Linked DNA regions of Homo sapiens: region 1 is linked to region 2. Evidence: fine-mapped expression QTL. A gene starts in region 2. The other region holds a variant in brackets. All regions are shown on one strand. Distances are between the middles of the regions.

Region 1 (13,580 bases), 42 kb after region 2:
CAGGTTTCATCCATTTCCCTTGTTTCTCTTGCTCTCTGTATAGCAAATTGAACATTATTAAATGATACAGCAAACTCATCTCACAATTATTATCATTACTGTTATCTTCTAAAAGCACAAAGAACTTTTGTTTTGTTTTGGTAAAGGACTAATAAATATTGTAGCTTTGGAATCTATATCTGTGTGGAAGGGGGAAAATTGTTAAAGAGTTTGAATACCTCCAGCTTTTTCCGTGTATGTATTTCATTGAATTTGGTCTTTTCAGTGTTCAACCCTGGATAAAAATGTTCAGCTTATACAAAATTGACATGCCTTAAAAATATGATATGATGCTGCTTCTTTCCAAAAAGAAAGTCATTTTTCATAGCTAGAGCCAGAAATGCTGTAAATTTCTTCCAGTAAATCAGACCTTTATAATACAGAGAAATTAAAATGGAACACTCCTCCTGGAAGATGATCTGTCTGGAAAATTCCTTGCTAGGAAATTGTCTATGGGAAAAACTCAGAAAACAGTAGGCTGAATTAGTGTTGCTGCTCGATAATATTTGAAATAATAATCCAATTTAAGCAGTTGTATATGTTGTAAATTATATATATTCCTTCTATTTTAGTGGATGTACATTTACAAATTCAGTTTTATTTTGATAAGCTGTGATAGTAATCAGAATTGTCAAAATAATAATTATACATAATTAAATAAGTCTTTGTTTTTAATGTTATATATAAATTGGTCTTAACTTGAATATTTAAAATTTTATTTTTAGTATAACTTTGAAAATGCATCTCAGACATTTGATGACCTCCCTGCAAGATTTGGTTATAGACTTCCAGCTGAAGGTTTAAAGGTAAGACAGTTGGTAATACATTGTAAAGACACAAGGTATTTAATAAGGTGATTTTTATTGTTTATTATTTAAAGAATGAAATCATTTCTTACTATTTATTATTATAAAGCCTATATATAGTCATTTGTAAAGGGTCAGATTATTCAAAAGATATCAGAAAGAAAGTGAAAATCACCTAGGATTGTATTATTCTGAACTAGCTGTGTTTAACATTTTGGTATATCACATTTCAGACCTGTTTTTTTAGGATATGTGCTATGCGTGTGTTTGTAGATGTATGTATGTGTGTGTACATATATATATGTACACACACATTTACATATATATGTAAATGCTTTCATATACAGTAAATCTGTATTTAACACTAATAGAAACATGCTATTTGGTTACCTGCCTTTTTCTTTTAATTGTATGTTTTGATCATGTTTTTTCATGCTGATAGGTAAGGATTTACATTATTAATTGTAACAGCTGCATGGTTTTGCAATATCATGAAATAGTATGGATTTTGAACATTGCTTTAGTTTTTCATAGTGGATATTTAGGTTGTCTAGTTTTTACTATTACAGTGCTACAATGAATGTTTTTGTCTTTGTGTATTCATCCATTTATCTCCATAGGATACATTTCCAAATGTAGAATTGCTTTGTGGCATGAATGTTTAAAGTTTTGTTCTGTATTTTCAGTTCTTCCTCCAAAAAGTTTGGAACGATTTAGAATTCTATCAATAACATCTGAGACTGTCCTTTTCCCTATACCCTCTTAAATACTAGATATTATCAAACTTTTGCTAATTTGATTTTAAAAAATCTAATGAACTTAAACATATTTTTTGCTGTGTGTGTGAGAGAGAGAGAGGGAGAGAGAGAGAGAGAGAGAGAGAGAGAGAGAGAGAGAGAGAGAGAATGGACTATTAATGCTCTTTGCCCAATTTGAAATGAAAGTGTCCTTGTGCTTTGTAAGAGTTCTTTATATATTGGAAGTATCAATTTATTGTTTGCCATATATGCTTCAGATTATCCCTTCTTCAGTTTTTCGTTTATCTTTTAATTTTTTTTAAGATTTCAAAAGTTTTGTTTAAGTAGTTAAAAATTCTTCTTTTTCCTCTACCTCTGGGGGTTAGAAAGTCCTTTCTCATTCCAAGATAATATTAGTTTTTTGTTATATGAATTCATGAAGTTGTGTGGATATGTACCATAGAATGTTTTCAGTTTATTCTAATTTTCTTAAAATTTCTCTTTTTTTTTTTTTTTTTTTTAAGGTAGGGTTTCACTCTGTTGCCCAGACTGGAGCACAGTGGCACAATCTTGGCTCACTGCAACGTCCGCCTTCTGGGCTCAAGTGATCCTCCCACCTCAACCTCCCGAGTGGCTGAGACTAAGTGGGCACCACCATGCCCGGCTAGTTTTTGTATTTTTATGTAGAGATGGGGTTTCGCCATGTTGCCCAGGCTGGTCTTGAACTCCTGGGCTCAAGTGATCCGCCCACCTTAGCCTCCCAAAGTACTGGTATTTCAGGCATGAGCCACCGTGCCTAGCCAGAATTTCTTAGTAAGATACCACAAACCTATTATTCTTAATTAGGATGGCAGACACCTCTGGGAGGGGCATTGAATTTTTAATTATTAAAAAAAAATTCATAGCATTGTATGACTATTTCTCATAAAAATATTTCAACCGAAAAGTAATATACATAAGAAAAAGGAAACACCTTCTTTTATTCTTTTCTTACCTATATGTAGCAGTCACACTTCCCTCTTCAGAGTTAAATATTATCAGTGATTTTACAGGCCTTCAGATCCTTTTCTGAACATGTAATGCTTTTTCATTCTTTTTTGTTCATAAACTTATGAACATGTATAATTCATAAATGGTTATCATTTGTATATATGAAAAGTTTCTTAATTCTTACAATGGAATCCGCTCTAGCTAGTTTTACCCAGAAAGGGATTTATAAAGGGATAAAGATGTTCAGAGTATCATAGCCTGGACAGGCAGTTTCTAAACTGTTACAGGAATAAAACCCAGAACCACCTTGCAGGACTGGCTTTATAGATGAGTGGTGCAGCCAATGGACCCTCACACCACATTATTTTTTCTCTCATCAGGAAGCCTTTGTGGTTTTACCTCACAACATTTGGCCTCTTCTGCCATCCAAGCTAATCGAAGAGATACCCTTTTTCAGACTGTTTCCTTACATGTCTACTTCCAAATCCAACACTTGGATTTTTCTGAGTGATAGACTTTTGGCCACATAGTTACTTGCTACATATTTTGGTGAAATACCTAGCTATGAGGAAGGCTGGGAAATACAATGTAGGGTTTTTGTTGTTGTTATTTTTGTTGTTTTAGCCTACTTTGGGAAGGTGGAATGCGTAGTGGGTTCAGAAAATTTGGAGCACCGTGAGTGACAGATGTCTACTGCAATAATTACCCTGCAAGGCTGGGCTGGGTGCAGTGGCTCACATCTGCAGTCCCAGCACTTTGGGAGGCCAAGGTGGGTAGATCACTTCAGGTCAAGAGACCAGCCTGAGCAACATGGTGAAACCCTGTCTCTACCAAAAAATATAAAAAGTAGCTGGGCATGGTGGCGCAAGCCTGTGGTCTCAGCTACTTGGGAAGCTGAGGTGGGAGAATCGCTTGAACCCAGGAAGGTGAGGTTGCAGTGAGCCGCGATCAAGCCATTGCACTCCAGCCTGGGCGACAGAGTGAGACCTTGTCTCAAAAATAAAAATAAATAAATAACTACTCTGCAGTTTGATTCCCCTACTTCTTCTGTTTTAGAACTCTTTCCACAGCAGCATCTATAAATCTAGTATGTTCCTGTTAAGCACTGCATGGTATTCTGTAATATGAATGATCATAGTTTATTAGTAATTTCCTCTTTAAAAATACATATATATGTATTTTTACATTTATGCATTAAAAAATATATATGTATCTTTACATTTATATATTAAAAATACATATATACGTATATATGTGTATATATATACGTGTATATATGTGTGCATATATATGTGTGTGTATATATATATGTATTTTTTTTCCCCCAAAGTTGTTATTTCTCTAGGATAGAGGTCTGGAAGTAGAATTGATGAAACCAATGGGTATGTACATCTAAAAGTTTCATAGATACTGCCAAATTACCTTTGCAAAGGCTGTGCTAATTTATTCCCATTAACACTGTAGGAGAATACTTATCTCCCTATACTCTTGCCAACACTGGATATTATCGGTCTTTCTAACTCTTGCCAATCTGATGGGCAAAAGTATTATCTTGTTTTAATTTGCATTTCTCTGATTACTAATGATGATCTGGCAACCTTTCTTTCATTCTATCATAAGGAGTCAGACTATTCCTTCTCACTGAAGAGCTTTTCTACTGAATAAGCTTATTTTAAAGAGCTCCATTAATTCTCGATAAGCATAATCTTATTGGTGCTCCTCAATTACTGTGCTACTATAAATTTGGTTTACATTTAAAAGATATGTTGATGAGTTTGTTTATTCACTGCCTGACCAAAAAAAAAAAAACGGTGTTAGATATCTGTCTGCTTTTTGCACTTGACAATATAGGGCAAGAAGAGAAGTGAAATATTCTAACAAAATTATTGGATTATTATGGGTAGCTTTTATAGTTGCGTGACTGGTTTTGCCATTGCCCAGAATCAGAATTTAAAATGCCAGCCATGCAAAGATTTACATTTGTTTACAAGGACTTGATAATAATGAAGTGAGGTAGCTCACTATAGTATTATGTCTGTAAAACCAATTAAATAAATACGTTAAAAATATAACTAATTTAAAGATATAATATGGTTATTATGAGACTTAGCTGAAAAATACTTTTTTTTTTTTTTTTTGAGACAGAGTCTCGCCCTATTGCCCAGCCTGGAGTGCAGTGGCATGATCATAGCTCACTGAAACCACCAACTGCTGGGTTCAAGCCATCCTCCCACCTCAGGCTCCTGTGTAGCTAGTACTATGGGAGTGTGCTACTGTGCCCGGCTAATTTTTAAATTTTTTTAGGAATGGAATCTTGCTATGTTTCCCAGGCTGGTTGCGAACCCCTGGCTTCAAGCAATCCTCCTGCTTCGGCCTCCTAAAGTGATGGGATTGTAGGCATGAGCTACTGCACCTGGCCAAAATATCTTACTTTTTTTATTGAGACGGAGTCTCACTCTGTCGCCCAGGCTGGAGTGCAGTGGTGTGATCCCGGCTCACTGCAAGCTCCGGCCTTCTGGGTTCACGCCATTCTCCTGCCTCAGCCTCCTGAGTAGCTGGGACTACAGGCGCCCGCCACTACGCACGGCTAATTTTTTTGTATTTTTAGTAGAGATGGGGTTTCACCGTGTTAGCTAGAATGGTCTCAATCTTCTGACTTCATGATCCACCCACCTTGGCCTCCCAAAGTGCTGGGATACAGGCGTGAGCCACCATGCCCGGCCCAAAATATCTTACTTTTAAACTCTGCCCAGAAAGTTTAGGTGAGATAGTTTTTGTAGGTCTAATTTATGTTCTATATTTTGTAGCTTTTATAACATCCCTGGATTCCATCAGAATCATTTATAAGACTTCAGATATTTATAGTATAATATATCAGTTGAAATTCTGTTTACATTCTATTTATATATGCCCCAATATTAGGTTAATTGTATTTAAAGCCTTTTTCTGTCCTCTCCTGTATCTTAAAAAATACTATTATTCAAGTATAAGAAAATGAGAAAGCCAAGGAATTTTGACCTATTTGAACTTTAATGCAAAAATGTAAATCTTTTCATGGATTAAAATATGGCACATCAGTGTTACAGAAGTTTTAAAAGAAAGATTTTATTTTTGTATCTAGGTAAGTCCTGTGTTTGTAGTTTTATATTTTAATTGGCTGTTTAGGAAGTTACCTTTTCCAGACAACCTTTTTAGACCTTGTAACCTTTGAGTACCATTAGTAATTAGTTTACA[G/C]TTCTTTTGAACAGTATATTTATATGTTTTGGCAAAATTCAGAACTATACAACTGTTCTTTTTGGAAAACATGTTTTGTCTTTGAAAAGATAAATAATGTTACTTAGCAGTATAAATATACTTTCCTACGTCCTCAAAAAATTGGTAAAGATTACCTTTCCCCATCCCCTTCCCCCACTCTATGCTTAGGAGGCCAAGAATTATTATTGTATAATGTAACGTATGACTCTATTTTTACCTTTTTCAAATGGATAACCAAGTATTAAAGAATCATTATTGAGTAGTTACTATGGTTTGGATATGGTTTTTTTGTCCCCACCAAATCACATGTTGAAATTTGATCCCCATTGTGGGGGTGTTGGAAGGTGGGGCCCAGTGGGAGGTGTTTGGGTCATGGGGGCAGATCCCTCATGAATTGCTTGATGCCATTCTCTCTCTGGCTAGATGGAATTAGTTCCAACGGAATAGGTTAGTTCCCTCAAGAGTGGGTTGTTATAAAGCCAGGACACCGCTTAGGTTTGGTCCCTCTTCACATATGCCCACTTCTCCTTTGGCCTTCTCCATCATGTTTTGATGCAGCCCTCACCAGAAGCTGAGCAGGTGCCAGTGCCATGCTTCTTAAACAGCCTGCACAACCATGAGCTAAATAAAACTCCTTCCTTTATAAATAACCTGCCTCAGGTGTGCTGTTATAGAAACACAAAATAGACCAAGACAGTAGTCAAGACTTTACATGTGGATTTGTAATGGTAGCAAGCAAGGTCTCTTGCTATACTTTTTATTATCAGTATAATTGGAATAATTTAGTTACACATTGAGGGCCAGTCTCAGGAGAACAAGCTTCTCCAGATTTCTTGTTTCTATATTTTTAGGAAGTGCCTTGATAGGTGGAGGAGATAATGATTGTTAAAAAATTGAAAACAAGATTTATCTCTGATAAGGAAGCTTTGATCAGTAAGCCAAGTGTCAGATTACCTGAGTATAATTATCAATGGCAAATCTCATTTTCAGCAACACAGCTTTTGGGCTAGATTTGCCATGATCCATATATACTGTGTTTTGTAACCTGGTAGTCAGGGTATATTCTTTATGTTGAAGAGGAAGAAGATAGAAGAGATGAAGATCATGGGATGCGGATTTGTCCTAGACTATGCTGTTCCTACTATCCAGAACAAAGTTGCAAATAAGCAGTTTTTCTTATATGATGTATAATTTATTTCCCCTCATCATTATTCATTAAATTAGTGCCTTATATCATCACCAGTTAATTTTCCACAAACTAGGCTTGTTCTTTGAAAGTTAATTTACCAGTTAATTTCAAAATTCTTATTACAGGAAATGATTTTGTTTAATATAAAGTCTTGAGATTAGAAGAGAGTTTTTTTCCCTGGTGAAGGAAAATGCAAACATTGCAAAGAAATGTGGTTGTTTGGATGTTTTATTTGTGTTACGTCCTTTGCCTGCTTTCTTTGCAGGAAAGAAGCTCAGTGCCACTTAGTGTATTTTTCCTCTCAGAACACTTACACAGTTTTGTGATGTGAAGAAAGCCCTGGTTAAGGCTCAATGTGCTGGACTTCCTCACCCTTATGTTACAGTATCACCCTCAGTTTATAAACGAAAACAAAGGTCAGAGTTCCTTTTTCAAAGGATAAATAAAGAAATAGCATTGTCAAAATAAAGAGTCAAACCATCTGGTTATACATGAAATAAGAATTCTAAGATCTAAGGACATTTTCACATGCACATAGTTAGATGGTATAAAAAGAATACTTTTGAAGTGAATTTTGAGCTTCTAAAATAAACCCTTTCCTCTTAATTTCAAAAAGTAATGGTTGCTTATTCATTTATTAAATGAAGCAGGAATATAGCATTTCATTTGATTTAGAAAATAATTGTTTCATCATGGCAAATTATCACTTAGAGAAGAGGGGAGATAAAGACACACACACACAGAGGAAGTCAAAGGAGGCTCAGGTTTTTGATTTCATAAATCAACACACTCCCTTCATTTTCTCATTGCATTACTGGGCATCTTTTTTGTTCACTTAGTAGTTTTTACTAGATTTTCTTAGTGGCTTTCTCAGTTCAATATAGCTAATTTTTTATTCTTCTGCTCATGAAAAAATATTTTTCTCATTAGAAGAGTGATACATGCTCACCATTAAAATTAAGATGATATAGATATGAAAAAGAATATGGCTCATGGAGTAGAACTGGTATAATTAAAATGACCATACTGCCTAAAGCAGTCTACAGATTCAATGAAATTTCTTTCAAAATGTCAATGTCATTTTTCACAGAAATAGAAAAAACTATCTTAAAATTTATATGGAACCAGAAAAGACCTCAAATAACCAAAGAAATCCTGAACAAAAAGAACAAAGCTGGAGACATCACACTACCTGACATCAAAATATATTACAAGGCAACCAGGTGTGGTGGCTCACACCTGTAATCCCAGCACTTGGGGAGCCCGAGGCAGGTGGAGCATTTGAGGTCAGGAGTTCAAGACCAGCCTGACCAACATGGTGAAACCCCATCTCTACTAAAAATACAAAATTAGCCGGGCATGGTGGTGGGCACCTGTAGTCCCAGCTACTCAGGAGGCTGAGGAGAATCATTGAACGGAGATGCAGGTTGCAGTGAGCTGAGATCATGCCACTGCACCCCAGCCTGGGCAACAGAGAGAGACTCCATCTAAAAAAAAAAAAAAATATATATATATATATATATATATATATATAACGTGTATATATAATGTATTTATACATAATGTATACACACATATATACATATTATGCACACACATACATATAACAAGGCTGTAAGAACCAAAACAGTATGGTACTGATATAAAAACAGGCACATAGACCAATGCTACAGAGTAGAGGATCCAGAAGTAAATTCACATATTTATGGCCAAATGATTATTGACAAAGGTGCCAAGAACATACACTGGGGAAAGGGCAGTCTCTTCAATAAAGAATGCTGGGAAAATTGGATATCCATATGCAGAAGAATGAAACTGAACCCTCATCTCTGACCATATACAAAAATCAACTCAAGATGGATTAAAGAATTAAAGCCCCCAAACTATAAAACTATTGGAAGAAAACATATGGAAAACACTTCAGGGCATTGAACTAGGCAAAGATTTTACAGCTAAAATCACAAAAGCACAGACAACAAAAAGAAAAATAGACAAATGATGCTATATTGAACTAAAAAGCTTTTGCACAGCAAAGGAGTCAACAGAGTGAAGAGACAACCTGTTGAATGGGAGAAGATATTTGCAAACTCTCCATGTGACAGGGGACTAATATCCAGAATATATAAGGAATTTGAACATCTCAGCAGCAAAAAGACAGTCTGATTTAAAAAAGGGCAAATGATCTAAACAGATATTTTTCAAAAGAAGACATACAAATGGCCAACGGGCATATGAAAAAAATGTTTAACATCACTAATCATCAGGGAAATGTAAATCAAAACCACAGCGAGATAGCATCTTAATCCAGTTAGGCTGACTATCATTAAAATGACAAAAAAAAAGACAGATTTTGGCAAGGATTCAGAGAAGAGGGAACTCATACACTGTTGGTGGGAATGTAAATTAGTACAACTACTGTGGAAAACGGTATGGAGATTTAAAAAAAAAAACTTAAAAGGGGGTGGGGGAGAACTAAATATAGCACTACCATAGGACCCAGCAGTCCCACCACTGGGTATTTATCCAAAGGAAAAGAAGTGTATCAAAGGGATACCTGCACTTGCATGTTTATTATGTCACTATTCACAATAGCCAAGATGTGGAATCAACCTACTGTCCATGAATAGATGAATGGATTAAAAAAAGTATATATATGGAATGTAATACTATTTGGCTGTAAAAAAGAATGAAACCATGTCATTTGTCACAACATGAATGGAATTAGAGATTATTATGTCAAGTGGAATTATACAGGCAGAGAAAGAACAAATATCCCATGTTCTCACTCATTTGTAGGAGCTAAAAAAGTTGATCTTATGGAGGTTGAGAGTAGATTGATAGATACCAGAGGGTGAGAAAAAGATGTGGTTGAGAGGGGGAGATGAAGAAAGGTTGGTCAGTGGGTACAAACATGCAGTTAGATAGAAGGTATAAGTTCTAATGTTTGATAACAGAGTAGGGTGACTATAGTTAGCAATAATGTATTAAGTATATTTTGAAGTTGCTGGAAGACAGAACTTGAAATGTTCTCAACACATAGAAATGATAAATACTCAAGGTAATAGGTTCCTCAAGTATCCTGACTTGATCATTACACATTTTATGCATGTAACAAATTATCACACGCACCCCATAAATATACAAAATATTAAATGCCAATAAAGTTTTAAAAGAATATGAAAATCATACATAATTCTACAATTAAAGATTATAATGGTAGATGTTTGGGTACAACTGTGTGAACTTATGTAGACACATTCATGCCTTCATTTTATGCACTTATATGTGTTATTTTGCAACTTAAAAAAATTGGCAATATGTTGGATGGCATATCCAATATCATGGATATCTTCCCATATAAAAATCTATACATTCATATCATCATTCAAAATTATACAATTTATTATAGTACTTAAATTACACCATAATGTAACCAATCCCTTGTGTCATTGGACATTTAGATTGCTTTCACTTTTTAAAAATGGAAATATTTCAAGCATAGACTAGAGTATGAGAATAACAGAGCATCCTGTATATCTGCTACCTAGAGGTTAATATTTTACTATTTTTTTGAAAGAAGAAATAAAATATTACAGATACTACTGAAACATCCTTTTTATCCTACCATATTCTGTTCCCTTACCTCGCTCCTTATAGATGATCATTATCCTGAAACTTATGTGTATCTTTCCTATTTATGTTATAAAACATACATATATATATTTTTTCTACCATATATGCATCTATAAACATTGTGCTTCCATTTAAATTTTCTTTGCTGTGGTTTTAAAACTTGCTTTTCCATCTAACACTATATTTGAAATTTTTGTTATTACATATTCCTAATTCATTTTAACTGTTGCATACTGCATTTTATGAATATGCCACAATTTATTTTTTCATTCATTTGCTGGTAGATGCCAGTTTTTTACTTTCTTTTTTAGTGAACATCTTTTAAATATGTCTCCTTGTATATATTATAACTAGATGCCAATTCACACTCATCAAATTAGTAAAAGTAGGAGTCTAACAATATCCACAACTGGCAAGGATGTGAAACCAGGTACTTTTATATACTGCTGGTATAAAAGAATGTCCAGCCACTTTGATGAGTTTAGTAATATCTCCCTTCTTCTGTAAGTGATAAGTAATAAAATAATTCATTATATTTTACATTTGATATATTCCCTGTTTCATGAAATAAATGAATGAGTAATCGTCACCTTTGAAATTAACAGAATAACTAATGGCAATGACAGTACCCTTATTAAGGTATTGTAATTGTTCTCCCTACTTTTGTTTGCCTGCACTATCCCTTCTTGCCAGTTGCCATTCTCTTTGAATTCTGAATACTGAAATAATTCCTCTAGTTAGGATCTGACCATTTCCATCATTATGATCCCTTTAATCAGATTGATAAGCAAATTGTATCAACTTTAATTAACCAGGTTGTGTTCAACTATAAACTGAGTTATAATGACAAATTGCAAATGGCAAGTGCTGTGGTAAGTAATGAATGAGTGAGGGTCTTTTTTGTTGTGGTTGTGTTTGTTATGTTTTGGAAAACAGTATGTTTTATGTTTCATTACCAAAGAATTCCTCTTAGTCTTGATTCTTTTTTTTATTTTTTAAGATGGAGACTCGCTCTGTCATGCAGGCTGGAGTGCAATGGTGCAATCTCAGCTCACTGCAAGCTATGCCTCCTGGGTTCAAGCAATTGTCATGCCTCAGCTTCCTGTGTAGCTGGGATTACAGGCGTGTACCACCACGCCTGGCTAATTTTTGTATTTTTAGTAGAGACAGGGTTTCACCATATTGGCTAGGCTGGTCTTGAACTCCTGACCTCAGGTGATCTGCCTGCCTTGGCCTCCCAAAGTACTGGGATTACAGGTGTGAGCCACCACACCCGGGCTACATTTGTTCATAATACTAAAGGAGAATTTTTCTGATGCCTGTTAAGTTTTCATGGATTTACTTTTTGTATTTGTTTCTGAACTCTTGCTGTCAAAGATTTTGTTAAGAATTCTGTAGTTATTACATTTAACCTCTTTATGTTTTTACAGGATTTGTCAAATACTATAGAATATGAATTATGCATAAATATTCTTTACTGGGTTGTACTGATTATATGGCAATTGTAGAGGACATGGATTGCTAGTGTAAGCACAATCCACTTAGAATTCTTGTTTTTAGAGAAATTATTTTGTTGCATGTAGCTGGAATGGCAATGTTTGATTGGAATTTTTTTTTTTTTTTTTTTTTTTTTTTTTTTTAGAATGATGATGTGGTTGTAGTATTAGTATGAATGTAACTACCATAGTTTGGATATTTGATCCTTATGTTGAAATCTGATCCCTAGTGTTGGAGGTAAGGCACAATGGGAGGATGTTTGGGTCAGGGAAGTGGATCCCTCATGAATGGCTTGGTGACTTCTGCTGTAATGAATGAATTCTCACTCTTAGTTCCTGTACGAGCTAGTTGTTCAAGAGTCTGGCCCCTCTCTTCTCCTCTTTCATCATGTGATCTCTTCTCACACAGGCTCCCCTTCACCTTCCACTATGCATGAGTGGAAGCAGGCCATCAGAAACAGATGCTGGTGCCATGCCTTTTGTGTGTGTGTGTATGTGTGCTTTCTTGTATAGCCTGCAGAACTATGAGCCAAATAAACCTCTTTACAAATTACCCAGCCTCAGGTATTCCTTTATAGCAGTATAAACGCACCAAGACAGTAACGTATCAATTAAAAGGCATTGTCCTCCAGAGCGCACATTCATTTTGTTTTCTAAAATGTCAAGGTATCATATCCATTGAGTGAACACACATTATCTGTGTGTACCAAATGAGAGGCACACACCAGATGACCTTTTCTTCACAGAGCTGGAATATCATAAAATCAAAATCCTGACAAATCAGTACTGTGTTAAGTAAAACAAAACTGAAGGTTATAGTCATTAAATGTTTGCCAATTATGCTATTGTTATTGAGAACTAAATTTGATAAAGACAAAAAGAATGTCAACTGGATCTTTTATGATTTCCCTTTGCTTAAATCTCTCCATATCAGCTCAAATAAAAAAGAAATTATTGATCATATTTCCTAGCTTTATTCTGGACACTATGATTTGTTGCCATCCCTCCCTCCTTTTTTCTTTTAATGTCGAGGTCACTAGCAAACTATTTATGTCTGCAGATTAATTTGAAGTAGTAAACTTTGGGAGAAGATATTTATTAATTTATATGTAAATGAAATTTTATTTGCAATCAGGTTATTCTGATGATATAAAGAAAGGTATAGTGGATGTTTAATAAGATATATTGTATTTAGATGGGACAACCAAAATTCCAAAACCAAGAGAAGAAAAATTAGGCATTTGGAGTATATTTCTCCTTAACCAGTGTGATCTAAGAAATAAAAAAAAATAAAAACAAGCATCTCCATAAAAGTGTCTTTTCTGGCTGTCTGCAGAAGTGGTACTTATCAATGGTTACAGTAGACTGGAGCCTGTGCAAAGGGGCTAACCCTTTCAACACATTCATGAAACTTCTTTCTAGATGTTTTGGTGAT
Region 2 (16,621 bases):
GGTCTGTTTTTTTTAAAATCCATTCAGCTACTCTATGTCTTGATTGGAGAATTAAATCCATTTCCCATTCAGAGTAATTATTGATAGGTAAGGACTTACTATTGCCATTTTGATAATTGTTTTCGGCTATGGGTCTCATGGACAGTGTTCCACATGGCTGGGAGAGACATGAGCTCACTCACTAAGCTCTCACTTTTCCTGTGGGTGAAATCGCTGGCCAAGGGAGGTCTCTCTTGGCACTGAGCTCTGCCACCTAGTGGAGGCAGTGATGCAGGAAAAGCAAAACTATTCTTAGCCACTTCAATTTATCTGTTATGAAAATTTTTATTTTTTATTTTATTTTTGAGACAGAGTCTTGCTGTGTCCCCCAGGCTGGAGTGCAGTGGTACTATCTTGGCCCACTGAAACTTCTGCCTCCTGGGTTCAAGCGATTCTCCTGCCTCAGCCTTCTGAACAGCTGGGATTACAGGTGTGCGTCACTACACCCAGTTAATATTTTTGTGTTTTTAGTAGAGACAGGGTTTCACCATGTTGGCCAGTCTGGTCTCAAATTCCTGGCCTCAAAAAACTTCAACAGTTTGCTGGAACTTCTCCACTGGACTCCTGGACTTCCACAAAAGTACTCTCATCTGGAGGTAGTTTTCAAAATGGATGCTTCTGCAGGGCAATGACAGTAAAGAGCTCCTATTTCACCATCTTGCTGATGTCACTTATTCCATCTCATTTTGAATTTGCCATTTAAAATACCTTTTATTTGCTTCTTCCCATCTCTCCTTTTCTGCTTTATATTGCATATTGTTTTCTTTATTCCTTTATTCCCTTTTTATGTCTACTGGTTTGGAAATCATACTCAATATCTTTGGTCTCCATACTTTTTTTTGCATCTCTTTTTTCTGGGTTTGATTTTCATTTTTCTAAAGATATTCTTTACAAGTTCTGTTAGTAGAAGTCTGTTAGTGGTAAAAGCTGATTTTCCCTAAAAATGTCTTTATTTTGCCCTCACTCTTAAATGACAGCTTAACTAGGCATATAATTCTAAACTGACAGTTGTAACTATTTTATTTTAGCATTTGAAGATATTATTTAACTCACTTTTAGTTTCTTTTGTAGCTACTAAGAAGTCTGGGCCGGGTGCGGTGGCTCAGGCCTGTAATCCAAGCACTTTGGGAGGCTGAGGCAGGAGGATCACGAGGTCAGGAGATCGAGACCATCCTGGCTAACACGGTGAAACCCCGTCTCTACTAAAAATACAAAAAATTAGCCGGGCATGGTGGCGGGTGCCTGTAGTCCCAGCTACTCGGGAGGCTGAGGCAGGAGAATGGCATGAAGCCGGGAGGCGGAGCTTGCAGTGAGCCGAGATCGCACCACCGCACTCCAGCCTGGGCGACAGAGCAAGACTCCATCTCGGGAAAAAAAAAAAACAACTCAGCTATCAGCTGTCACTCCTTTGTAAGTATTTTATCTTTTTTTGTTTGTTTAAAACGTTTTATTTTTCTTTGATCCTCTTTAAATTTTATTACAATGTGCCTAAATATGAATTTATTTTGTGTTTCTTTAGGGTATATTCCTTGGATTGAATTGCTATGTCATAGAAAATTTTCTTTTTCACCCTCCCTAGACAATTTCAAATTGTTTGCTAATGTGATTATGTCAGTTCACACCCCAATGACTTCTTCCATCTTTATATTGCATTATGTCATATGACTTTTTGCATGCTTATTTTGTAATTCCTTTGTTAGCAAACAGAGGAAAACTGGTTCTCAGTGTGCAAAGGAAAAGTTGAATTTGCATGTTGGTCATCTCAGATATACAGAGAAGTAACTCATCCCACATAAAACAATGACTAGATCATTTTTAAGGCATTGAACATTAAGCACACCTCTTTTTGCCTGATCTTTCTCAACTCCTTGAAAATAAATTGGATAAACTTTGTTGAAAAACCCTCTGACTGATATGTATCGCCTTAGGTTCTGAACTTTTCACTTTTTATCTTACTTAATGAACCCATTCATTAATTTGGAACTTGGCAAAGAAATTAGAATCTTTTAGAATCTTTGGCTAAAAGTTCCCTGATGCTATTTGTAGAAATTCTGTTTGGTACTTTTCAAAATTGCTTATTTCATACACATATAAATTCTTTATGGATCTTATTCTTTCTTTTAATAGTAATAATTTTATTTTGTTTTCAAAATGAAAATACCTTTTTTCTGATTCTAAAATTACTTTTTTTCTGTTTCTAAATATGATAATATATAGAATTGTTTAAGGTTTCTGATTAATCTCTGTGCTTAAGGAGACAGCCTGCATTCTTTCTGGTATTTAGGGAGAACTATTTCTAAGCCATTTCAGACAATTACATAATTGGGTATCTGTCTTTTTTTGTTGTTGTTGCCTTACAATATTTTGGAAGCAGGAGATTCTACAATTACTTTTACGTGCTATCTGTTTGTACTTTTTAGGAAGGTTTAAAAAAAAAACCTGTTAGATACAACACCCTAAAAGCACATTTTGATTTTTAAAAAGATAATTAGTGGTATATTAGTATCACGTGCCTTATTAACCCTTCATGTTCTTGAAAATTGTAATTATGATATCTGTCAATCTTACTGTCTAATCTGCTTTAGAAAGATTAATACATTTTTCCAATATATTTTTTTCCAATTTACCTTTTTCAGCACAGGTTGGGAGAGTAAATGTTTTTGCAGAGTGTAGCCTAAATGCAGTACAAATGACACATTACCTTGTTCATAGTTGAGAGAACTATACCTATTGTTATCTGAAGAGCAGGTTGAAACCAGAAGTAAAATATTCTGTACTCAAGGTGCCTTTAAGGAATAAGCAAAGCTCTTTGTCTGAGCGTGGTGACTCATGCCTGTAATCCTAGCACTTTGGGAGACCGAGGCAAGAAGATCCTTTGAGGCCAGGAGTTTGAGACCTGCCTGGGCAACATAGCCAGACTGTAAGGCTAAAAAAAATAAAAAAATTAGCCAGGCCTGGTGGCACATGCCTGTAATCCTAGCTACTCCAGAGGTTGAGGTGGGAGGATTACTTGAGCCCAGGAGTTCTGGACTGCAGTGAGACATGATCTCACCACTGCACTCCAGCCTGGGCAACAGAGTGAGACCTTGTCTCTAAAATAAATAAAAATAAAACAACAAAACCCAAAGCTCCTCTCTGTGGACTTAATTTTTTTTTTTTTTTTTGGAGATGGAATCTTGCTCTGTTGCCTATGCCCGAGTGCAGTGGTGGGATCTCAGCTCACTGTAACCTCTGCCTCCCATGTTCAAGCGATTCTCCTGCCTCAGCTTCCCAAGTAGCTGGGATTACAGGTGTGCACCACAATGCCCGGCTAATTTTGTATTTTTAGTAGAGACGAGGTTTCACCATGTTGGCCAGTGTGGTCTTGAACTCCTGACCTCAAGTGATCCGCCTGACTTGGCCTCCCAAAGTGCTGGGATTACAGGCATGAGCCACCGCACCCGGCCTAAAAAAATTTATTTTGATGTTATGCAAGAAATCTGATTTAATATACCAATTTGGGATAATTTAATGAAAAAAATGCTTATAGAGATATTATAAATGTGTTTATACTAATTAGTCTTCTTAGTAATATTCCCAATGCTGACTTTTATTTATGACTTTCTTAAAGGCAGAATTGTGATTTAAGTATTGAATGTCTTTGCAACCAATGAAAAGTTAAGACTACATAGAATACTCATAGGATACACAGAAGAGGAAAGTACCTTTGATAGCTTTTATTTAATTTTTTAAAATTTGATCTTAAATTTCTTGTATTTGAATTTTATTTGAGTAGGTAATATTTGCAAGGTTCAAAATTCAAAAGGCACAAAAGGATACACAATAAGGAAAGAGTCTTTTCCCCATTGCTGTGTCCCACCTACTCAGGGCTCTCCAAGCAATCAAAGTGACAAGTTACATCCAATGGTATTCTACTAATACTCTGTGTGATAGCCTCCTCGCCACCATTTTTAAAAGATGATGTTGAAGGAGTTGAAGCCTGTAAAGGCCTTATTAAGGGTGCCTTATTATTTGAAGCAGAAGTAGTGCCTGATTCTATGTCTCCTGACATTTCTTTCAGGACTCTGTAATATTTGCCTAAGTCACACTGCTTTTGTAAGGTGGCGAGTTGGCAATGATTAATCAATGTGGATGGTACAATCCGGTAATTTAAGTTTCGACTGGTTTAAGATTGAGACAACCAGAAAGGAAGGCTTATCAGAAGGGCGGCAGGGGAGGAGATTTTTGGTTCATCAAAAGGAGGCAAGGGTTTTAAAAGGCTGACCTAGGGCCTGAATCACATGGTTTGACTTTTGCTAAGCCCCGGGGATGGCGCGTGTCAGGCCCAGAGTGCTGATGCCAGCGTGGATCCGAGCCAGGCCTCAGGGGACTGGCGTTCAGACCTCGGGCCGCTCGCATCTCTAACAATTTGAGCCCTACTTTAAGGTGTGGCCACGGTCCCCACCCACTCTGATCTCAGACTGGGCACGGTACGGAAGGCGGGCGGATGAGGCCTCGCCCTCGCCTCTTTAGTAGGTCGGGTGAGTGTAGTGTGCAGGGAAGAGACGCGTCAGCGCCAGGGCCAGGCCCGCCCGGGGGCAGCCCGGCAGCCGAATCTTGGGCTACTCTGTCCCAACAGCCGGAGCAGATCAGACCGACCGGCCCTGCCCGCTCGGTCCCGCGCCCTCCAGACCCTACGGTCTCCGTTTCTAGGGGCACATGGTTAGCGGCAGGCGCCCACAGCCAATCCACTTTGCCAGCCTGCCCCTTCCTCTGCCAAGAGCAGCTTCTTCAGCCGCGCTCCAGTTCCGCAGACGCCTGCCCCACCCTGCTCTTCCCTTCCAGGGAAGACGGATCACGCGGCCAAGAACGAGACTCGCAAACTGGGCATTTCTCCGAGCCGGGCTAGAGCAAGTAGCGAGACTCCGCGTGAGAGTGGGAAAGAGCCTTAACAGGCAACCATGTTGCCCAGTGGGTTTTCTGTGCCTTTGGGTGCGGACCAATGAGGCGCGTGGGGCGGGACTTCCGCTTCGCCTAGGTGTTGTCGTCCCTGCTAGTACTCCGGGCTGTGGGGGTCGGTGCGGATATTCAGTCATGAAATCAGGGTAGGGACTTCTCCCGCAGCGACGCGGCTGGCAAGACTGTTTGTGTTGCGGGGGCCGGACTTCAAGGTAAGACCCTGTCCGGCTTCGCGGCAGCCGGGCAGCTCGTTATCGAGCGGCCCAGAGAACATACCCCGCTTGTTGGCCCTCGAGCTCGGAGTCGGCCCTGCTGCTGAGGTCTTTGCTGCTCCTCTAGAGCTGGGTGAGAAGTCAATTAGGCTTTTTGCAAAAGGAATAAAATAGCCTTGCCCTCGGGGGACCGAGTCTCCCCTGCACTCTCATTCCGCGAGTTTGTGTGTGTCCAAAGTTGAGTTACCGGTTTTGCTTCTCTCATTCCCTTCTTGAGGCTGCAAGAGCCTGCCTGGAAAACATGTTTGGAAGGCTTTTCTTGGTCAAGTACCTGCCGCAACGTCCTCGGGCACATCGCTTGACTTTAGTTGAGGGGGCTGTTTTGTCTCTGAATAGAAGGAGGGCAGTCACTTCCTCTCTTTTACCCCCACCCCCTTTTTCTTTCCCTGGAAGCTCAGATTGCAGGTTTGGGACTTAACCCCTGCTAGGGCCAGATACTACGGTCAGTCAGCAGCTCTGCCTGTATGCTTGACTTGACTTGACTTGCACTTATTAAATAACTTTGTCCCAGAGAGAAAGAGAGAGTGGGCAGACATCGAAGCCAAACAGCAGTATCCCGGAAGCACTCATGCAACTTTGGTGGCGGCCACTCAGTTTTCTCTGCCAGTGTCTGGTAAATTCCTCTATTTTGTCCTAATCTGACAATAGTAAATAGTAAATTTCCAAAACTGTCGTTTCATCATCAGTTTCAGCACCGTGGGCAGCTGCTCGGGTCCTCTCTTGTTGCCCCAAACCTGCCCGGCTATTACTGTTCGTCAGTGATGCAGCAGAAACAGTGAAAACTGATGCATTCCTTTCAACAATGATGTGTTTGTTCTCCAAGGAGAACATCTGCAGTTTTTGATACAATATAAATAAGTAAGGTGGCTGTGCCTCCAAAGAGTTCTTCTGGAGAAACAGATCAATTCAAGATTTAAGGTAGGGCTTTCAAGAGTTTATGCTATTTAAGCACAGTTTTTTAATGGGTGGACATTAGCTCCATCTCGAAGTAACAAAACTGGACAGTGATAGCAATTAAAAAGAACTTTAAACAGGAGGTAAGAAGTGTAGTGCAGTGCTGTAGTGCAGGAAGTGTAGTGCAGTGCTGTAGTGCAGGGCCCATAAGGATTCATTAATAGATTTTAGAATCAATTTAGTACATTGACATAAGCTTTATAAAGAAAGAAAAAATACCAGAGGACATTGTATGGAATAAAAGTAAATATTATGGCAAGAAGCTTTTGTTTCAGTTTTTAACAGTATGTGTGTGTCAAGAGGAAGATGGAAATGTAAAGTGTATTATGGATTATGGCAAAAACAAATGTTTCAAAATACTAAATTCCAAATTTGGGAGTCAAGCTGGGTTCAGCTCTGCCATTTACTAATTCTGTGACATTTTCCGTAAATAAGAAATGAGTTGTTATGAGGATTAAATGAAACAAAATTTGTCTATTACATAATTTTTTTTTGTTTTGTTGGAAACTGTTGGAGAGAGGCACAGTTATTTTTCTCTATGTAGGGAATGAGAACTGTTTTATTAGTTTTTTTTTTTTTAACCTCTGCCTTTGTTTGAAGCTAGGCAGCTTGACATCTTGTCTCTATGTGTAATGCAAATCATAGACAGAATCTTGGTTTGAGAGGTATAATACTGAAGGGTTTGGGATAAGTTCTCATCTATGCTTGTATAAAGCTAATTTTCTCAATAATTTTGGAGGGGCATAAATTGTTGCTAGCATTCAGCTTTCTTCCCTTGATATTTTTCTGCATTCCAGAATAACGTAGATTTATCAGAACTTTTACAGGCACTAACTTTAGCTAAGTGAGGGTAGGCCTGAGGGTATGACTAAAGGGATAGATTTATGTCTTTGAGTTAAGTTGGCTAGGAAGGCATTTTATGCCTTATAGTTCTTGCCATAAGAGATGTATGAAATGAAATAGTTTGGTCAACTATCATGGTATGTTTTGCTTACTTCATGTAGGTGTGACCTAGAAATGGTTGGCATTTAAATAACAATATTTTTAAATCTGGGAATTGATGTTTAGCAGGAGGCAAATGAGTTTCAGTCAAAACAGTGTTTTGCACCATTTGTCATGTTTACCATATGGCATTGCATATGATAGTTTCACATGACATAAAAAGGGGAAGAAAGTTGGTAAGCATTGTTACTTTTCCCAAAAGAGGAAACAAAATTAGAAGCGAATTCCTTTTAATAAAGCATACTGGTGAGTCATTGTTCAAAAATGTATGTATTCTATAGATATTTATTGAGCATATATAAAAGTAAAATATTAAACTTTTATGAATCTTTTACATTACACAAAAGTTGATTTGGGAACAACACAGCATATGATTGGTATTGTCAAAGTTTATATAGCATAGTATATCAACAACAACAAAACAGTAATGTAGCTAATATTGATTGGTTAATATGAGCCAAATACAATTCTAAGTGCTTTATAATATCTCAGGTGGTTCTTACAGTCATTGATGTGGTAGATAGTAAGTTGTTTCCTTTTTATTTTTTTTTGGGACAGGGTCTTGCTCTGTTGCCCAGGCTGGAGCAATTATGGCTCACTGCACCCTCGACCTCCCGTGCTCAAGGGATCCTCCTATCTTAGCCCGACAAGTAGCTGGGACTACAGTCATAAACCCCCATGCCTGGCTAATTAAATTTTTTTTTTTTTTTTGTAGAGACAAGGTCTCATTATGTTGCTCAGTCTGGTATGAAACTTTAGGGTTCAAGTCATCCACCTGCTTCAGCCTTCCAAAATGCTGGGATTACAGGTGTGATACATCATGCCTGTCTTATCCCCATTTTCTAAGTGGGAAGTGGGGGAATTAAGGCATCACAGATACATAACTTCTGAGTTCACACAAGTAGCTGGTGGAGTAGCTGGAATTTGATCACAGGTATTCTGACTACAGAACGTCTGTCTCTTTTGTGTCTTATTTCATTAAAAAATATGGAATGCTGTGGGGCTATTGTGGATTCGTACTTGCTGGTGACCTTGGGGAAGCTCCTCCTCAATTTCCTTAACTCCTTCCTTACTTGTTTTTGTGGGGATTCAGATAATTTGTGAAGCAATCAGATGGCGTATATGTTTAGTAAATTATATGCCTTAGCCTTTTTTTTTTTTTCATTGAGGATGAGGTCATTTGAAAGATTGTTAGCAGTTGAAGGAGGGTGGAAAAAAAAAAGTTCCACATAAGGACACTGCCCAAGCAAAGGTATAGAGATAGGAAAAGCAGAATACATTTGGTAAGGATATATGTTTAAGGACCAGACTGGTAAAGATAGATGGATACAGATTATGGAGATTCTTAAATGTCAGACTAAAGATTTTATATATGATTTTTAGTTAAGAAGAAACTCTCTTTATGGATAATAATTTGTGAACAGGTCCAATGGAAGAGTGGAAGCCTAGAAGTAGGAATACCATGCAATTTAATTATAGTAGTTGAGGCAAGAAGTGATGATCGTAGTGAAGGTATAGATTTGAAAGATGTTGACATTATAATGACATTGACACTGGGAACTGACCAGAGTATAGGCCTAGGACAAATTTTTGGGAGGATAGTGATGTTATTAACAGAAATAAGGATATTATCATGAAGAACAGGTTTTGGTGGAAGGAGATTTAGGAGGAGAGAGGATGATAGGGAGTTTACTTTTGGAGCTGAGGAGTTGTTCAGACGTTTGGAAATGTAGAATGAAAACTGGAAGTTCTGTGTATTCTATGAAAAGGGAAGAGAACAAATGCTTACATTGTAAGGAAATGACCTAAAAGTAACCACTCCTCTGTGGGTCAGAGTTTCACAAGAGGGATGTGACTCCTTAAATTACTCACAAGTACAGATTTCTCAATGAAGATGCACCCATTATTTTTCCCTTTAGTGTATTTTGATTCGTGTCCTGGGAGATCAGGAGGTAAGGTAGTGGGGAGGAAAAACTTTTAGACCTAGCAAGGCTCCCATTTATTCAAAAAATAGCTAGTAAATTGGAGGCTAGGGATTCTCACCGTAAGAATTTTGAGAGTCTGATTTTTGTGTGGTACCAGGCATTTATAAACATATGTTGAATGCTGAATTGTTGAACATTTGAACATCTCCAGATTTGTTATTTTTATTATCCTGTCTTTGTTACCTTGAATTGGTTAATAGCAAAACCTTTAGAATCAGAGACTCTGTGTGCTTGTTATGGGGGGCAACAATGAAAGTCAGGGTGCAGCTAATGAGATTGTATTTTACTTATAGCCAGGATTGTGGAAGAAGACACTCAAAGGATAAGAGGCTTACCATTTTTCCCATTCTGTAAAACCATGTTGATGACAATACCAATTCTGAGAGTTGTTTTGAAATACTGAGTTAATATATGAAAAGGGTCTGGTACATGATAGATAGTAATTGAGATGTTTTTGTTACCAGTATTATTATCTTCACAAGTGGGGGGCAAACACAGAGATCCCAGAACCTATTATAAGAAAAAAAGGAAAACATCTGGAGACCCTTTGTACTTGAAAAAGGGCTCAGGACTAAGTCATAGAAGGACTGTAGGTTTCCTTTCTTGGAAGGTTTTCTAGGGTTTGGTACAATTGGGTAGAGCATGATGTTGAATTAAGTAGTAAAATATATCCATCTCAACTATTTTCAGTTTCCTGTCAAGTTCTCAGTAAACCAACAGAAAAATGTTGTTGAGCATGAGAAGAAGGTTTACTTTTCTTGTCATACCATTTTTGGAAACATTACTTGGATCCTACTACTTAGGGGTTTTTCTGTAGCATTTATTCACTCAAATATTTGTTGAGTACCTTCTTTGTCAGGCACTGTTCTAAAGAGAAAAATCCTTGCCTGCATGGAGCTTATCTGCTAATGGGAGAAATAAGGTGCATTTTCATAATAGACGGTAATTAGATTTTTCTCGTACTATGTATTTGTACCTATTTAAGCAGATGGTAATAATGAATACTATACCAGATTGTAACTAATTTTGCAGAGCATTTGAAGGAAGGGACCATGTCTTTCTTATTCGCATTTGTCTCTCCCTTTTCCCCTTCCTCCCAGTGGAATGGCTTAGATGTGTTTAATGCTCAACAAACGTAGGTACTCATCAAATGTTTATTACAGGGAGAAGGTGTTAAGGCAGAGGCTACATCTTAAAGATTAAAGGAGTCAGTTAAATGTGGCATGTATTAAGGACCCATATACCCCCTAGATTGAGGGTGAGAAGAAGAGAATCCGGCTGGGCACTGTGGCTCATGTCTGTAATCCCAGCACTTTGGGAGGCTGAGGTGGGCAGATCACTTGAGACCAGAGTTCGAGGCCAGCCTGGGCAACATGGTAAAACCCCATTTGTACTAAAATACAGAAATTAGCCAGATGTGGTGGCGTGCTCATGTAATCCCAGTTACTTGAGAGGCTGAGGCAGGAGAATTGCTTGTACCTGGGAGGCGGAGGTTGCAGTGAGCCAAGACCGCGGCACTGTACTCCAGCCTGGGTGACAGAGCGTGACTCTGTCTCAAAAAAATAAAATAAGATAAAAATAAAAAGAGAATCCCCTGGCTTATCTATGAGGTTGGAATAGGAATAAAGTTATATTGTAGCTGAAAGCATCAACATTATGGGAGTCTGGGTGTCACCCAACATTCCCACTAATTAGCTGGGTGATTTTGCATAAATATCTTAACCTCTCAGTTCATTTCCTCACCTGTAAATGAAGTAGTTGGAATTGTCCAGTTAAAATCTGTTTTTACGACTTCTTGTAAAATATCTCTTGCACTAATGTTTCACTTCACTAACGTAGATAATATAGAGCCAAGCATGAGCTTCCATTGAATAAGCATCAAGCTAAATATATACTCTTAGTTAATAAACTAATGTTTAAGAAAAGATGTCTACAAAATTTGTTGATGCTATTTACCGGTAAGATTACATTGTAATTTTTTAAAATAGAGCAAAATATTACCTAATATATAGTTTCCCCCATTGCCATTATGTAAAGGAAAAATAAGCCATAGTATTTTAGACCTTAATAATGGATCATAATACTCACTTTCATACTTTAATTTATACAACAGTCACTTGCCTCTGATATTGTGCTAGATGCTAGGTATTGTATACAGAATTAGAAAATGTATAGCTCCTAACTTTAAGGAGCTTAAGGAATAATGGGAGTGACAGACCATTTAGTTGTGTTGCATTTTGGTGGCATAGAGAAGCATATAATGAGAGTCTGGGAGAAGAGAAAGTGCTCATGGTTACAGAGAAAAAGACTGGAGGAATGGCAAGGGACTAAGCTAAATATACAGAGACGAGCCAGTTTATGAAGAACTTTGTGCTAAACCACAGTTTAGTTCTGAGCTGTATTCTGAAAACTGCTTAATCTGTTAAGGAATTTTATGCAGGCAGTAACATAATCAGGCATTTTTATATCTACCTTTATATTCCTTTTAAGAGAAGGTGTTCCCTGAGGAAGGTATTTGTTATTTCTAGTTGTTTCAACGATGTAGATCTTCCTGAGGAAATCAGTCTTTTTAACTTTGAAATAAAGTCTGAGGAACATTGTCAATTTTGTGGTTATAGAGTTAATAATTATTAAATATTAATAATTATGAAATATTCAGACATTAAAACATTTAAATGTTTATTGCCACATTAATGTAAACTGAAAAGAAAACTGAAATTTTGGGATGTTTTGCGCTTTGATGTAAGAGAGCTCTTGGTCAGCTACAAGAATTTGGCTTAGAATCATTTTTAAGGAGTTAGAAATACGTTGACCTTGAATTGATTGAAAGTGAATGTAGTTCAGGCTCAGTTTCTTTCTTTCTTTTTTTTTTGTTTTTTTAAAGAGACCGTCTTTTTCTGTCACCTGGTATGGTCTCAAACTCCTGGCCCCAAGCAATCCTCCCTCCTCAGCTTCCCAAAGTGCTGGGATTACAGGCGTGAGTCACCACTCCCTGCCCGGGCTCTGTTTCTAATGATAGAAATATCCAGGTAAACTTTATAGAGGGAATGAATTTCCACCGGGAAATAATCCTAGTGAGGAGCTGGTGATAAATGAATATTTCTGAATGAAGTCATGAGGGAGAAACATCTACTTTATTTAGATGTGAAACACCTCATTAAATGTTGAAGAATACTTTATTTGCATACTTACTATGTTTGTCATTTACTCTTTTGACCCTCAAAGAGGAAGAGCTGCTTATAATTTCCACATTTATCCAACATGGATTATAAATGTTAATTGCTTTTTTTGGAAAAAAAATTGAGGTAAAAATTCACGTAATTAACCATTTTAAAGCAATAGTTCAGTGGCATTTAGTACCTTTGCAGTGTTGTGCAACCATCACTTCTGTCTAGTTTCAAAACATTTTTATCACTTTGAAGTAAAATCTCATACCTATTAAGCAGTCATTCCCTGATGCCCCTAGCTCATGGCAACCACATCTGTTTTCTGTTTTTATGGATTTACTTATTCTGGATATTTTATATAAATTGAATTTTCAATATTTGAGTTTTTATCCCTGGCTTCTTTCACTTAGCAAAATGTTTTCAAGGTTTACCCACATGTAGCATATATCAGTACTTCTTTCCTTTTCATAGCAGAAGAATATTCCTTTCCATGTCAGAAGAATATTCCTTTCCATGTCTATATATCAGTTTGTTTATCCATTTATCCATCGATGGATATTTGGGTTGTTTCCACCTTTTAGTTATTATGAATATGTTGCTGTGAATATTTGTGTCCAAGGATTTATTTGAGAACCTGTTTTCACTTTTTCGGGTATATACCAAGAATGGAATGCTGGGTCTTATGGTAATTTTGTTTAGCTTTTTGAGGACCTGCCAAACTGCTTTCCACAGTAGCTAAACCATTTTACATTCCCACTGGCAATGTGTGAGGGTTCCAATTTCCCTACATCCTTGCCTACACTTATTTTCTGTTTTTAAGAAATTATAATTGCCATCCTTATGGGTATGAAGTGGTATCTCACTGTGGTTTTGATTTGCGTTTCCCAGATTACTAATGATTTTAAGCATCTTTTCATGTGCTTGTTGGCCATGTGTGTATCTGCTTTAGAGAAATGTCTATTCAAGTTCTTTGCCCTTTTAAAAAACTACATTGTTGGTGTTTTTGTATTGAGTTGTGTTTTTATATACTCCAGATACTAGACTGTTCATTATCAAATATATAATGTGCAAATGTTTTCTTCCATTATGTGGATTTTTTTTTTCAATTTTTTGATAATGTCCTTTGATAGATAAATGTTTTGAATTTTGATGAAGTCCATTTTATTTATTTGACCCATGCTTTTGGTGTCATATCAAGAATCCATTTCCAAATCCCAGGCCATGAAGATTAACCCTATGTTTTCTTCCAAGAGTTTTATAATTTTACTCCTTATATTTAGGTCACTGATTCATTTTGTGTTAATTGTTGTATATGGTATAAATTCCAACTTCATTGTCTTGCATGTGAATAGTTGTCCCGGCACCACTTGTTGAAGACACTGTTCTTTTGCCATTGAATGGTCTTTGGCATCTTTAAAATCAATTGGCTATAGATGTATCAGTTTATTTTTGGATGCTCAATTCTACTCCTTTGGTCTATATATCTATCACTATGCCAGTGCCATGTTGTTTTGATTACTGTAGCTTTGTGGTAAGGTTTTGAAATTGGGAAATGTGAGTTCTCCAGCTTTGTTCTTCTTTTTAAAAATTGTTTGGCCTGTTTAGGGCCCCTTGCAATTCCATATGAATTTGAGAATCAGCTTTTCCATTTCTGCATAAAAGGCCATAGAAATTTTGATAGGTAATATATTGAATCTGTAGATTGCTTTGGGTAGTATTGCCATCTTAATAATGTTAAGTCTTTGAGTACCTGGATGTGTGTTTGATATCCTTCAGCATTGTTTTTGTGTTTTATAGTTTTCGGTGTACAAGTCTCTCACCTCCTTTGTTATATTTATTCCTGGGTATTGTATTCATTTGGATACTATTATACATGGAAGTTTTTCTTAATTTAATTTTTGGATAGTTCATTGCTGGTATGTAGAAACACAATGGATTTTGTGTGTAACATTTATTGCCTTTAACAGTCATTTACTTTCTTTTTTCCATGTGCAAGCTGAATCACGTGGGTAAATAAGAAAGTGGAAAGTGGAACACTAAAGAACTTGATCTGTAAGATGTCTGATTTCCCTGAATGTGAAAACTATGAAATATGTTTTTAGCATAGTGTTGAACTATTATCTTACTATACTTGGGCTATTCCATTTCTGGTATCACGTTACATATATTTGGTCATTATTAAAGAAGGTAGATCATTTCATTTTCTTTAGGTTTGGAGAGAAGTGTCAATACGTAATTCATTTTCAAAGTTACAATTATTTTGCAACTTAATTTTGATGTTACACAGAAAGCCTCAGGGATAAACCATATTTATCGCAGAGTCTGGTACAGAGATCCATGAATAATAAAGATAAAATTAGAACAGAAGCTAATTTGAATATGTAAATTACCATTAATATACATTAGTTTTTCTGTTTTTTCTTGAAGTTTCCAAATAGCCTTAAAATTTCATTATGAATAGAAATGTGAACAATTTCAACCTCATAAGTAATTAAAGAAATGCAAATTTATGCAATACTTGGATGATTTGGGAAGGGCAGTATTTCATGACACAGACTTTTAATTGAATCCTAGCTTCACTATTTAAGAGGTAAGTATTACTGGGCAAGTAACTGAACACTTAAAACACTTAAAAATAAGAGGAAATATTTATAAAGTGCTTGCTGTGTGTTAGGCACTGTTTTAAGCACTTTATGCTGTTGATCTAAGTTTTTATTCCTATATTTATGGAAAGACAGTGGAACCTACTATAGAGTTGTGAGGATTAAAATAAATAATGTATATTAAGGACTTAGCCAGATATGTAGTAAGCATTTGATAAATATTAGCTATTTTTGTCATTTATAATTTCACCTAACACCAACAAAAGACCAAAAAAGGAGAATCGATACAATGAAATGCACATTTATTTGGAAATATAAATAGGAATGTTCTTTTCTGGAAAGCAATTGGGCAATATGTATGAAGTCTTAAAATGTTTCTTTGGTGTAGTGATTCCATGTCAAGGAATCTATCCCAAGAAGATAATCAGAAGTATGGAAAGATTTATATTCATTGGAAAATTATTTGTAATAGTAAGAGTTCAATTCAATGTTGTACAGCAAGAAAATAGACAAAGTCATGTGTCAGCCATATAAAGCAGTACAAAGTAGCTGTTAACATAGTGGTTATGAAGAGTTTGAACAACAAGGGAAAATCTTTGTTATAATTTCAAGTAAAAAAGCATACAAATCATAATACAATATGATACAAGTGATTACTTTGAACTTTGGAAGACATTATATTATTAAAATAAAATAACATGTTAAAATTTTGAAGTAGCTACGGAGTTAAAGTTGTAAAAACAATACAAAGACCTTTATGTTTTTTGTTATTTGAGAGAAAGTTGTTTCTCTGATGCTGTATATTCCTATAAACAACAATATTCTCTTTAAAGAAATGGCTGATTTCAGGGCTGGGGCAGGAAAAGTACAAGGCAGGACTGGAAAATCTTGTGCCAGAAAACAAGGAGGTGCTCAAGAATGTTGGGAACATATCAAAAAGACACAAAAGCTAGCTTGAATAAGCCTCCATTGGCCAAACAATTGGACATCAAAATGATAATACAATAGCAGATTATAACCCATTGAATAAAACAGTAATCTGTGATTCCACACTGATATAAATAAGTAAATGAATAAATTAGAATGTTGCCAAGAAATGTGATAATTACCGTGGTAGGCAGAATAATGACTGCCCAAAGATGTCCATATCATAATACTTGGAATCTGTGAATATGTTACCTTGTATGAGAAAAGGAACTTTGCAGATGTGATTAAGGACCTCGGGTTGGGAAGATTATCTGTGTGGGCCCAGTGTAATCACAAGTGTCCTTAAAAATGGAAGAGGGAGGCAGAAGAGGAGTTTGGAATAATGTGCTATAAGAAGGAATTAATCTGCCATTGCTGGCTTTGAAGATGGAAGAAGAGGCTACAAGCCAAGGATGTTGGCAGCCTCTAGAAGCTGATAAGTATAACAATCAAATTGTTGTATAATGTAAAACATTTTCATTTAAAAACATACATGAATAATATCCTAGACTAGAAAAAATATATGGTTTTTTTTTGTGAAAGGAAATGACCTCTGTCCTAGTTTTCCTTTGGGGCTTTTTTTTTTTAAAGATATACACACAAATATAGTTAGGTAGATTGATAAACACATACAGGATTATATGATTATGTCTAGTTAATGTCCATTTGTAAGTATGTCTGTATCAAAAAGCTCC

What was found. PIP is the estimated chance that this variant, and not a neighbour inherited with it, causes the effect.
Region 1: its variant is fine-mapped to the expression of RNF13 in whole blood (INTERVAL, PIP above 0.99).

The regions. Positions count from the first base shown.
Region 1 is chr3:149,851,752-149,865,331 of GRCh38, forward strand. RNF13 (ring finger protein 13) reads left to right here. Exons shown (of 10, transcript NM_183381.3): 3 at 765-845. Among named protein-coding and RNA genes, the nearest start is that of RNF13, 45 kb to the left of the region's middle. The variant G/C (reference allele first, on the strand shown) is at 5,807.
Region 2 is chr3:149,808,165-149,824,785 of GRCh38, forward strand. RNF13 (ring finger protein 13) reads left to right here and starts at 5,051. Exons shown (of 10, transcript NM_183381.3): 1 at 5,051-5,189. RefSeq lists enhancers at 38-332, 4,408-4,919, 4,785-4,894 and a silencer at 4,425-4,574.